Regions from separate parts of the Homo sapiens genome. Here region 1 is linked to region 2. Evidence: fine-mapped expression QTL. Tissue or cell type: thyroid. Region 2 holds a variant in brackets; the other region holds the start of a gene. All regions are shown on one strand. Distances are between the middles of the regions.

What was found. PIP is the estimated chance that this variant, and not a neighbour inherited with it, causes the effect.
Region 1: it holds the start of RYK, and the variant in region 2 is fine-mapped to the expression of RYK in thyroid (GTEx, PIP above 0.99).

Annotation. Positions count from the first base shown.
Region 1 is chr3:134,248,200-134,253,346 of GRCh38, forward strand. RYK (receptor like tyrosine kinase) reads right to left here and starts at 2,660. Exons shown (of 15, transcript NM_002958.4): 1 at 2,224-2,660. The coding sequence starts at 2,455. RefSeq lists an enhancer at 1,901-2,679 and a silencer at 2,015-2,834.
Region 2 is chr3:134,161,235-134,166,381 of GRCh38, forward strand. All of the region lies in intron 13 of RYK (receptor like tyrosine kinase), which reads right to left. Among named protein-coding and RNA genes, the nearest start is that of RYK, 87 kb to the right of the region's middle. The variant T/A (reference allele first, on the strand shown) is at 2,983.

The sequences.
Region 1 (5,147 bases), 87 kb after region 2:
CACTAGAGAAAATACTACTAGAAGTCTCTCTCGCCCCCGGGGATAGACAAGGGAGTTAATTGAAACAATGCTTCCTACCCTCCCAGCAACAGCATTTCTGGGCATAAATTGGATGCTCATCAAACAGGAGCTTCCTCTGCTGCAAATACTGCTAAGAAAATTAGTTCCAGGCCAACCTTTGAATAAGGTAACAAATATATAACTCAAGTGCTAATTAGCAATGATTTATTTTCCACCATGACATAATCAAACTTCTACAGACAAAATCTTCATTTCATTCGATAAAACTTTGCAGCCTATGTCAACACTGTTTCATTTTTTTCAAAAATATGAACTAGGCCAGGTGCGGTGGCTCACACCTGTAATCCCAGCACTTTGGGAGGCCGAGGCGGGCAGATCACGAGCTCAGGAGTTCAAGACCAGCCTGACCAACATGGTGAAACCCTGTCTCTACTAAAAATACAAAAAATAGCCAGAAGTGGTCGCTACTTGGGAGGCTGAGGCAGGTGAATCACCTGAACCCAGGAAGCAGAGATTGCAGTGAGCCGAGATCACGCCACTGCACTCCAGCCTGGGTGACAAGAGCGAGACTCCGTCTAAAAAAAAATTAACTGTGTGACCTTGAGCAAGTTACTTTAAAACCCCACTTTCCTCATCTCTACAATAGGCATAATGCCACCTACCTCACTGGGCCCCGAGAAAATTAGAAGAAATTATGTGTATAAAGCATGTAGGGGCAGGTATATGGCAGGAATTCAATGTCAGTCCCTGGTTGTCTTCTGTCTCCTACCTACACCTCTGACTTTGTTTACCCATGTAAACAAAGTCACAAGCTATATAAGTGCTTTTAACCAAAAAGCCTTTACAAAACCATGCATAATACGTTAATATTTCTAAAATTAATGTGATATGAGTCGTCTTGTATTATTTTTCCTAAATCTTAGTCTTGTGTTCCAAGTACTACCCCAAGTAGAGTTTTAATTCAGCTAAACTACATTCAGCTAACTCAGCTAGACTAAGAAGGATTAAGAATGAGCACGACTTCATAAAAAGAGCATTCTTCTTTGGCTAAAAACTGCAAATCCGTACATGTAATGTCTAAAGAGTCTGCTTTCAGTAATTCCATTTCTACACTGAGTCAATCTCAACACACCTCAACAAAGTCTTATTACTTAAAAAAAAATAGAATACTGACAAATAATGGATGCAATAGAGAATAATTTTTCCCCTCAAACACTCAGAAGCACCACCTTCAGATGAAATAAAGATACTGCCATAATAACAAAAGAATGCAAACGTCTAGGTACCAAGGACTTCCTTTTTGGGGGGTCGTTCCTGTCAGATCTTCCTCTAAGGGGTCATTTCCAGAATCCACAAAGTCCTAACATAAGACCCCAGCAATTTTTCAAATTAATTCCCCAAACAACAAAGCTAAGCAAGTAAATGGAACCACAAACCGACCCAAGACTAAGTTCTTGTTTCCCTTCAAGATACTCAAAAGTAGGAGAGTGGCCCAGAAGTACAGAGTCAGTCCAAACTCCCAACACACCCAATGCAAAAACCAAAAAGGTATTGAAACTAAAAAGGTCTGCTACCTGGCGATTCATTCACTAAAAATATGCTTAGAATCTAAGCATATGCTCCAAATCTACGTCCCAAGAGTTGGAGGCTGCCACGAACATTTGGTGCCCTTATAACCTCCCCTTCTTTCTCTCTCGTTTTTTTTTTTTTTTTTTTTTTTTTTGTAAAAGGGTAAGCACAGAGCGTGGCCTCTACTGGAGCATCAAAACCACAGCAAAGGGTTTGCAAGTTCAGTCTAAAACGTGAATTTCGAGATATTCAAAATCGAGGGCCCTAGAGTGACACACATAGAAAGCGTCAAAAAAACTTCGTGCAGCAAGGAAAAAAAGTTGTAAGGGTGACTGACTCTTCTAGGGAGAAGGGCTAAGGAGGCAGTGAGGAGGATGGGATGGGGTGAATCTGGGTCTATCGCGGCGGGGCAGCGAGGGCGGCACGAAGGCTGACCCAGAGCTGGGGACCGGGCAGGGACCACACCTCCCAGCCAGCACGGCAGGCAGAGACCGGGCCGCGAGGCGAATCCGGGCGCGGGGGGCGGGGAGGGTACTCGCCCGAGGTCCACGGCTCGCAGACTGATCCGCCGGCGGCCGGAAGCTGCCCCAGCCGGCCCGACCTGCCCGCCCCGGCCTCGGCGGCCCCACTCACCGATCAGCCGGCGCACCTCGTCCTCGCTCAGGTAGAGACTCACGCTGGGCCCCGCGGAAGCCGACTGCAGCTCCGGGGGCCGCGGGGCGGGGGCGGCGGCAGCGCCAGGCGCGGGCAGCAGCGGCAACAGCGCAAGCAGAAGCAGCAGCGGCGGCGGCGGCGGGGCCCTCAGGCCGCGGGCCCCCGGGAGGCAACTCCGGCCCGGCCGCCCCAGCCGCGCCGCCCCACGCATGGCCGCCGCCGCCGCCGCCGAAGAGGAGCGTCGGCCGCCCGCCGCACCGCCGCCCACCCCCGGCCCCGAGCCGCTCACAGCCCCGAGCCGGGGGCGGCTGCCCAGCTCATCGCACCGCCGGCCCGTGGCAGCCAGCAGTGGCTTCAGACCTCCGGAGCGCGCCGCCGCCGCCGCCTCCTCGCTGCATCGTCCGGAGTTGGGGGCTGCCCGCGGGACGCGCCCGTGCGCGCCGCCGCCTCCCCGGGAGCGCGCACGCACCTTTCGCTCTGGGCGGGCCGGCCTGGGCAACGCGCTGGGGTTTTAAAGTGCCTCGGCGGGCGAAGGGCTCGGGTCACCCTCTCCGCAAGAGCCGGTCCCCGCCCCACGCGGTCACTGCGTCTAATGTTTGCTTGTCTATTGTCTGTAACCCTCCTTTCCCGACGGACGGGCCAGGCTGGAGCCACCGGCCGCGCCTGCAGCTCAGTGGGCGCCCCAGGTCCCCGGAAACGCCTGGATGCGGCCGTTCTGGTTGCGAAAAAGCAGCATGCTTTCCTGTTTAGTGGGAAAACTCAAATAAATAGAAATCATCCTTTATCTTACCATCGGTGATCAACTTTATCGTTTCCGTATCTATTATTAGAATTTATACTACATATATTTGTTTTCCAGAAAGATCTTAGCACGCTTTACTAACCCTATTTTTACGTTACAAAATTTTATTTATTTTTATATTTTTATTTATTTATTTTGAGACGAAGTCTTGCTCCGTCACCCAAGCTGGAGTGCACTGGCACGATCTCGGCTCACTGCAACCTCTGCCTCCTAGGTTCAAGCCATTCTCCTGCCTCAGCCTCCCGAGTAGCTGGGATTACAGGCGCCCGCAACCATGCCCGACTAATTTTTTTGTATTTTTAGTAGAGACGGGGTTTCACCATGTTGGCCGGGTTGGTCTCGAACTCCTGACCTCACGTGATCAACTGACCTCGGCCTCCCAAAGTGCTGGGATTACAGGTGTAAGCCACCGCGCCCTGCCAAATTGTTATTTTTTTTATAATCGTTCTGCATCACTATAATCAACCTGCCTTTGGGGTTGTTAATCTGTGGTCCATACCAGGCTTCGACAGCCTTCCAATAATATGAAACTGTGTGCAAAAGTGTATGTGTCTCCGTGCGTATTTGTGTCCACGTCCATGTTTCTGTGTGTTGTGTGTATGCTTGATTGCACACAGAGAGGTGGTATGTCATCATTTGTTCTAGGGAGTCCTTGTGCCCTCAAAGAGGTTAAGAACTGCAGATAGACCTCGTGTACTTAAAGGCGGTGGAGCCAGCCAGTGCATGGACTTCCGGGCCTCCTGATGTATTTTTGTGAGCCGCCCACCATCGCGGTCAAACTTGCACCAGTGCCCCCTCTCTTGGTGAGGCTCCAAGGGCCCCTGCCCTGTCCTGGGACACCTCGTCCCTGCGGACAGGCCCCCGTCCTGACCCCAAGGCTCTCGCGGGGCCGTGCCTCGGGGAGCAGCTGCTCTGACAGCTAGGCCTGGCTTCGGGGCACAGTTGCTCCATCGCAGTGAGGCCCTGGGAAGCGGTTATTTTTATCCTCAGGGAAGGGTAGGGAAAAGGAGAGGCTGATAAGGAGGGAAGTGCTGGAACTTGATTTTCTCCCTCCCTAGCAAGATACACGGATTCCATTTAGAGATAGGCTGGCCTCAATTTGTCAAGCTTCAGCGCCTCAGCACAAAATCTTACACCCTTCATCCTGCCGGAGGAGGCTGAGAAGAGGAAGAGGGGAGGAAAAGTGCTCCATCAGAGAAGGCTTTTAAGCCACAAAAGTCAGCAAAAATACTTCTGTTGGGACAGCCACTGCTACCAGGGTTCTGCCAGGAAGGGCTGGAGGCTCAAAACATGTTGTGTGAACAGGAATCTCAATTCAGATGGGAAGCATTTTTTTAAAGGATGGCATATTCTTTGCACTTTTAAAAAAGCTCACAGTCCTCAAAGAATGAAACTCCTAGCTTCTCGAGGTTCTTTAATTACTAGGTCTTGTCAGTGACTTCTTCAGGCGGCCTATGATGTAAACAGCAGAGAGCTCCCACTCAGGCCTGGCTGGGTTCTGGTACTTGTTAATCCTGTGGTCTTGGGAAAATTAAACTCTCCAAGCCTTGGTTCTCTCATTCATAAAAATCCCGGGATAATGCCCGACTCCCAGGGCTTTTACAGGATTTAATTGGAGAGGGATACAAGTAAAACATCTAGGCAGACGCTGGGTAGGTGTCACACCTGTTGTTATTGTAATTACAAGGAATCCTTTCCCTTTAATGACCACTTCCTGTGAAAGTTTCATCACCAGTTACCTCCAAACAGTTCAAACCTGGGACCCTCATGAACCTCATTCAATAGCACTGAGCCTGGCCCAGAGCCTGAGCTCGATGAAGACTCGTGCCAGGCATCACGCTAGGCACTGGGGACACAGGAGCGAGCAATGTGCTTCCTTGAGAACTTTGATAAACAAATGTTTTCATAAATTCTACAAAGACAAGTTCTCAAAGTGTGGCCCCCAGACCAGCAGTATCATCACCTGGGAACTTGTAATGTAAATTCCTTGGACACTGCCCATACTAACAGGTAGCAGCTCCAGGGCTGGGGCCCAACAATCTGTTTTCCCAAGCCTCCTGGTAATTCTGATGCTGCTGGTCACTCCATTAATATCTCAGCT
Region 2 (5,147 bases):
CACTATATTAAACATGAAATGATATAATATTTTTGGAAAATAGAAGGTTTACACTATAAAGCCTAGAGTAGGTTTTTTAACCTCAGCACTACTGATATTGTGGGCTGGAGGATTCTTTGCTGTGAGAAGCTGTCCTGTGCATTGTAGGATGTTTAGCATTCTCCCTGGGCTCTACCCACTAGATGATAGTAGCACATCCTCCAAGCTGTGACAACCCAAAATGCCTCCGGACATAGCCAAATGTCCCTTGGCACAGACAAATGTCCTTAGCCAGAGCAAAACTGTCCCAGTTAAGAACCACTGTGTTAGACTGAACAACAACAAAAAATTTAAAATATCAGAAATAAAGGAGGGAACACCATCCTTTAAGACATCAAAAAATATTATGAACAATCCAATTTTATGCCAATAAATTCAGCAACTTAAATGAAATAAACAAATTTCTTAAAATACAAATTACCAAAACAGACACAGGAGTAAACAGAACATCTATATAGCCCTACATCTATTAAAGATACTGAATTCACAATTCAAAACCTTTCCACAAAGAAAACTCAACACTGTTTGGTGAATTCTATCAAACTTGAAAGAAAATATAAATCTGTATTAGTTTTCTAGGGCTACCATAATAACATACCACAAACGAGTAGTTTAAACAACAGAAATTTATTGTCCCACTGCTCTGATAGCTAGAAGTCCAAATCAATGTGTCAGCGTGGCTGTGCTTCCCCGGAAACCTGTAGGGGGAATCTTTCCTTGCCTATTCCCAGCTTCCTGTGGTTGCCGGAAGCCCCTGGTGTGTCTTGGTTTGCAGCTGCAGCCCTGCAGTCCCTGCCTCTATCTTCACGTGACATTTTCTCCTCATGTGTGTGTCTCTTTTCTTAGGGTGGATTAGAGCTCATACTCATTGAGTATGACCTCATCTTAACGTTACATCTGCAATGACCCTATTTCCAAATAAGGTCACATTCTGAGGTACTGGGGGTTAGGGCTTCAACCATTTTTTTTTTTTTTTTGGTGGAGACGCAGGACACAATTCAACCCATTACACACCCAACCCTACGTAAACTTTCAGAACACAGAGGAAGGAATATATCTCATTCACTTTGACAGCAGCATTACCCTAAATACCAAAAACAGGTGGTCAGCCTTTTGGAACCTATTATCTTTTTCATTAACAGTGATCATTAACATGGAGCAAAGTCCAGCCTTGAAGTCTATGCTCTGGGAGGAGGGGGCAGGCGACAGATGGAGAAGCGTGTATAGTTTCAAAATCTCCACAGAGTCTTGGAGGCTACTGAAATTTCCCTTACACCTACTGGGACATTCTATTCTGCTTAAAAATGGAAAAATGATTTCAAATTAATAAAAGTTAAAGGATGGTGCCTGCTCACAACTAGTTATTTGCCTATCTTTAAAACCTTACTGTATATGAAACTTTTTTCTGAGAAGCAACAAGATCTACATGAAATCTTAATACTGACAGTCATTAGTAAATGCAATGCTTTATTTTTAAAATCGTGTCCAATTTCCATAGAGAAGGTAGTTCCCTGCACAGATGGAACAGAGCCCAAAGAAATGAAACTGGTCGGAAGGGTGCTCCCATCCCTTCCTCCAGAGATGAAATGATCCATTCAAACTAGATTTTGGAAGAAGAAACCATGGGAATTGGTGACAAGTGCATCCTGACTCTTTGTACACAGGGAATAACCCCATCCACTGACATTATAACACCTTCTGACTTTAAGGGACTTTGATATTAAAGTTGGTGGTATTTGAGATCTGGAGTTGAATGTAAGTATTACAGCAGCAATGTAGATAAGCTTTTAAAAATTACTCCCTTCCCACTGTTTTGTTCACATTACTGCCCAACATTTACCTAAGGTTTTCATATTACAACTACAACACTAAAAGACGCCATAAAAAAGAACAGTCAAGCCAAAGGGAACAATGCAGTTTCATTTCCTTAAAAACTAACAAAAGTGATTAATTACATGTTGGCAAACCAACCCTTAAAAAAATAATCAAGACAAAATGGCGCAGAGATGATTTGTGGAAAACTTGCTCTCTAAGGTCTTCCGATAACTGAACCATTTAAAATTTAGACAGACTTATTCTATAATTTCCTTCTGTTTGACGTCGGTGGAAAGGGGGCAATAAGAAGGTCATGCTGTTCTTTCCAGAGTTTTACGAAAGATTGTGGCTATCTCCATTTAAAGAACATTTAGATAATTATAATGTTATTCTATTCATCTTATTCCTCTCCCCAGAACATGTTATTTTACAGCTTCTATATATAAGATGTAAAACAGTTTTTCCACTAAAACATATATGAATGTGACTTGTCAAAAAGTATGTAAGTAAAATTCCTTTTTTCTTTTAGTGCAGCATTAACTAAAGATGGAGCTACTGAATTAAGACATTTCCAGTGATTACTTCAGGAACTTACAATGCAAGGCTCACTTCAGTAAACTATAAACTGAAAGGAAAATAATTCCATTCAATTGTAAATTATCTTATCTGACCACAGTGGAAGCATCATCAGGTGGTCCATGGCTAGGCCTTTCTGTTCATATTAGAAACCTAATATCCCTTTCTCACATAAAGACATGGCTGCAGATTACCAAAGTGCAATTAAATGAACCTGGGTTAAGTGTTTTATAAGAAGGAGAAGAATTATCTGGGGTGCTTGCTAAAAAGTCCAGTTCCTCTGTCCTATCTTAATAATTCTGAAGCCTGGATCACATTATTTTATTTAATTAATTATTTATTTGCATTTTTAGCAGAAATGGGGTTTTACCATGTTGGCCAGGCTGGTCTCGAACTCCTGGTTTCAAGTGATCCACCAGCCGTGGCCTCCCAAAGTGCTGGAATTATAGGCATGAGCCACCATGACAGGCCTGGATCACATCCCTTTAAACAAAAGTCCTTGGTGGGTCTTAAGATTGGGTAAATTTAGCAAGTAGTCCTAGATTTGTTAGC[T/A]GCAGTGATCAGACAGTAAAGACAGTTTTCATTTATTTTTATTGTAGTACAGCTGACACATAAGAAATTGCACATAAAGTATTCCACTGGATAAGTTCTGATATACATAAACACTCCTGAAACCACTGCCACAACCAAGATAAGGAGCATATCTATCACTTCCAAATGATTCTGTTTTGATCCTTTCCTTCCACCCCTCCCTACCACCAGCACTACCATCCCCAAGTACCCACTAATTTGCTTTCTGTCACTAGATAGTTGGCGTTTTCTAGAATTATATAAATAGAATTATTCAAGCTGTATACTGTTTTCCTAGCTTCTTTTACTCAGAATGATTCTGAGATTCATCTGTGATGTAGCATGTACCAACAGTTCATTCCTTTTTATTTAGTAGTATAGCTCGTTATATGAATACTGCAGTTTACCCATTTACCTGTTGATAAGCATTTGAATTATGTTCAGCCTTAGCTATTAAAAATAAAGCTGCTATGAACATCTGCGTAGTGTTGGTAAGAACATGTTTTCATTTATCTAAGAGCAAAATGACTGAATATGGTACATACATATTTAACATTTTAAGAAATTGCCAAGCTGTTTCCCAAAGTTTGGAAATATCCCATTTTACATTCCTGCCAGCAGTGTAAAAGAGCTCTTGTTCTTTCATATCCTTGTCAATATTTGGTATGGTCAGACTTTTCAATTTTAGCCAAACCAACAGTATCTCATTGTGGTTTAATTTTGCATTTCCCTAATGAATGACTAATAATGTTGATAATATTTTTCAAACTTGGAGAGAATATCTTGAGTTTTCTGACCAAGGCAAAAAGGGTGTACCTCTCCTATTGTGTATGTATTATTTAATTTCTCTCAGCAATGTATTGTATAGCTCTTTCACATTTTTTGTCAGATTTATTCCTGAGAACTTCGTATTTTTGATGTTCTTATAAACTTTTTTAAAACTTTATTTTTCATTGTTAGTGTTCAAAAATACAATTTATTTTTGTACACTGATCTTGCAATCTTTCTAAACTCACTTATTAGTTTTAGTAGCTTTTTTGTATATCATACTGAATTTTCTACATAAATGATCATACTATTCTGCAAATAGTTACTTTTTTCTATCTACTCTTTTCTTCCCTTAGTGCACTGGCTATAATCTTAAGGACAGTGCTGAGTAACAGAAGTGGTAAGAGTGGGCAACCTTGTCTTGTTCCTGGTATTAAATAAAAACAATTCAGCCTTTCACCACTAAATATGTTAGCTATAGGTTTTTCTGTAGACGCCCTTTACCAGGCCTAGAGCAGATGTCCAGAGGGACATGCCTCCTCTTAGATGCCTCTTTAGGTCTGGTGTGCCCCAAGTGCCAAAAAAGGACCTCAGTGCCTCTGGGGTGGGGCTCTGGCAAACAGCCACTGAGGTACGTTCCACCTAGCTGAGAGATGATGTTCCCACCCCAGTGGACCTGAAAAGCAGAGTACGAAGCCAAAGGGAATTATTCTTGAGTCCTAAGGTTTAATATTGTTTGTTCGGTTAGGTTTTCAACTTATTTTAGATGCATTACTCCTTTCTTCTTTCCTATTTCTTCCCTTTGGAATGAGTATGTCTATCCATTACTTGTCCCACCACTGTATTTTTGAAGCACATAACTTATTTGCTTTTATAGGTTCAGAGCTAGAGAGGAATTTGCCTCAGCATAAACTGTACCTTGAGGTTCATCCATATCAGATTTAGACGACATTTAAATGACACTTTGGACTTAAGACTTTGGAGCTGATGCTAAAACAACTTAAGACTTTTAGGGCTGTTGGGATGGAATGAATGTATTTTGCATGTGAGAATGACATAAATTTTGGAAGGCCAGTGGCAGAATGTGGTGGACTGAATGTGTGTGTCCCTGCCACCATTTATATGCTGAAACCTTAACCCCCAAGTGATGGTATTAGGAGTTGGGGCCTTTGGAAGGTGGTCAGGTCATGAGAGTGCAGCCCTCATAAATGGGATTGGTACTCTTATAAAAGAGACCACCAGAGAGCTCCCTCACCCCTTATGCCACATGAGGACCCAGAAGAGAGGATGGATATTTATGAACCAGGAAAGGGGCTCTCAACAGACACCGAACCTGCTGGTACCTAATTTTGGACTTCCTAGACTCCAGAATTATGAGA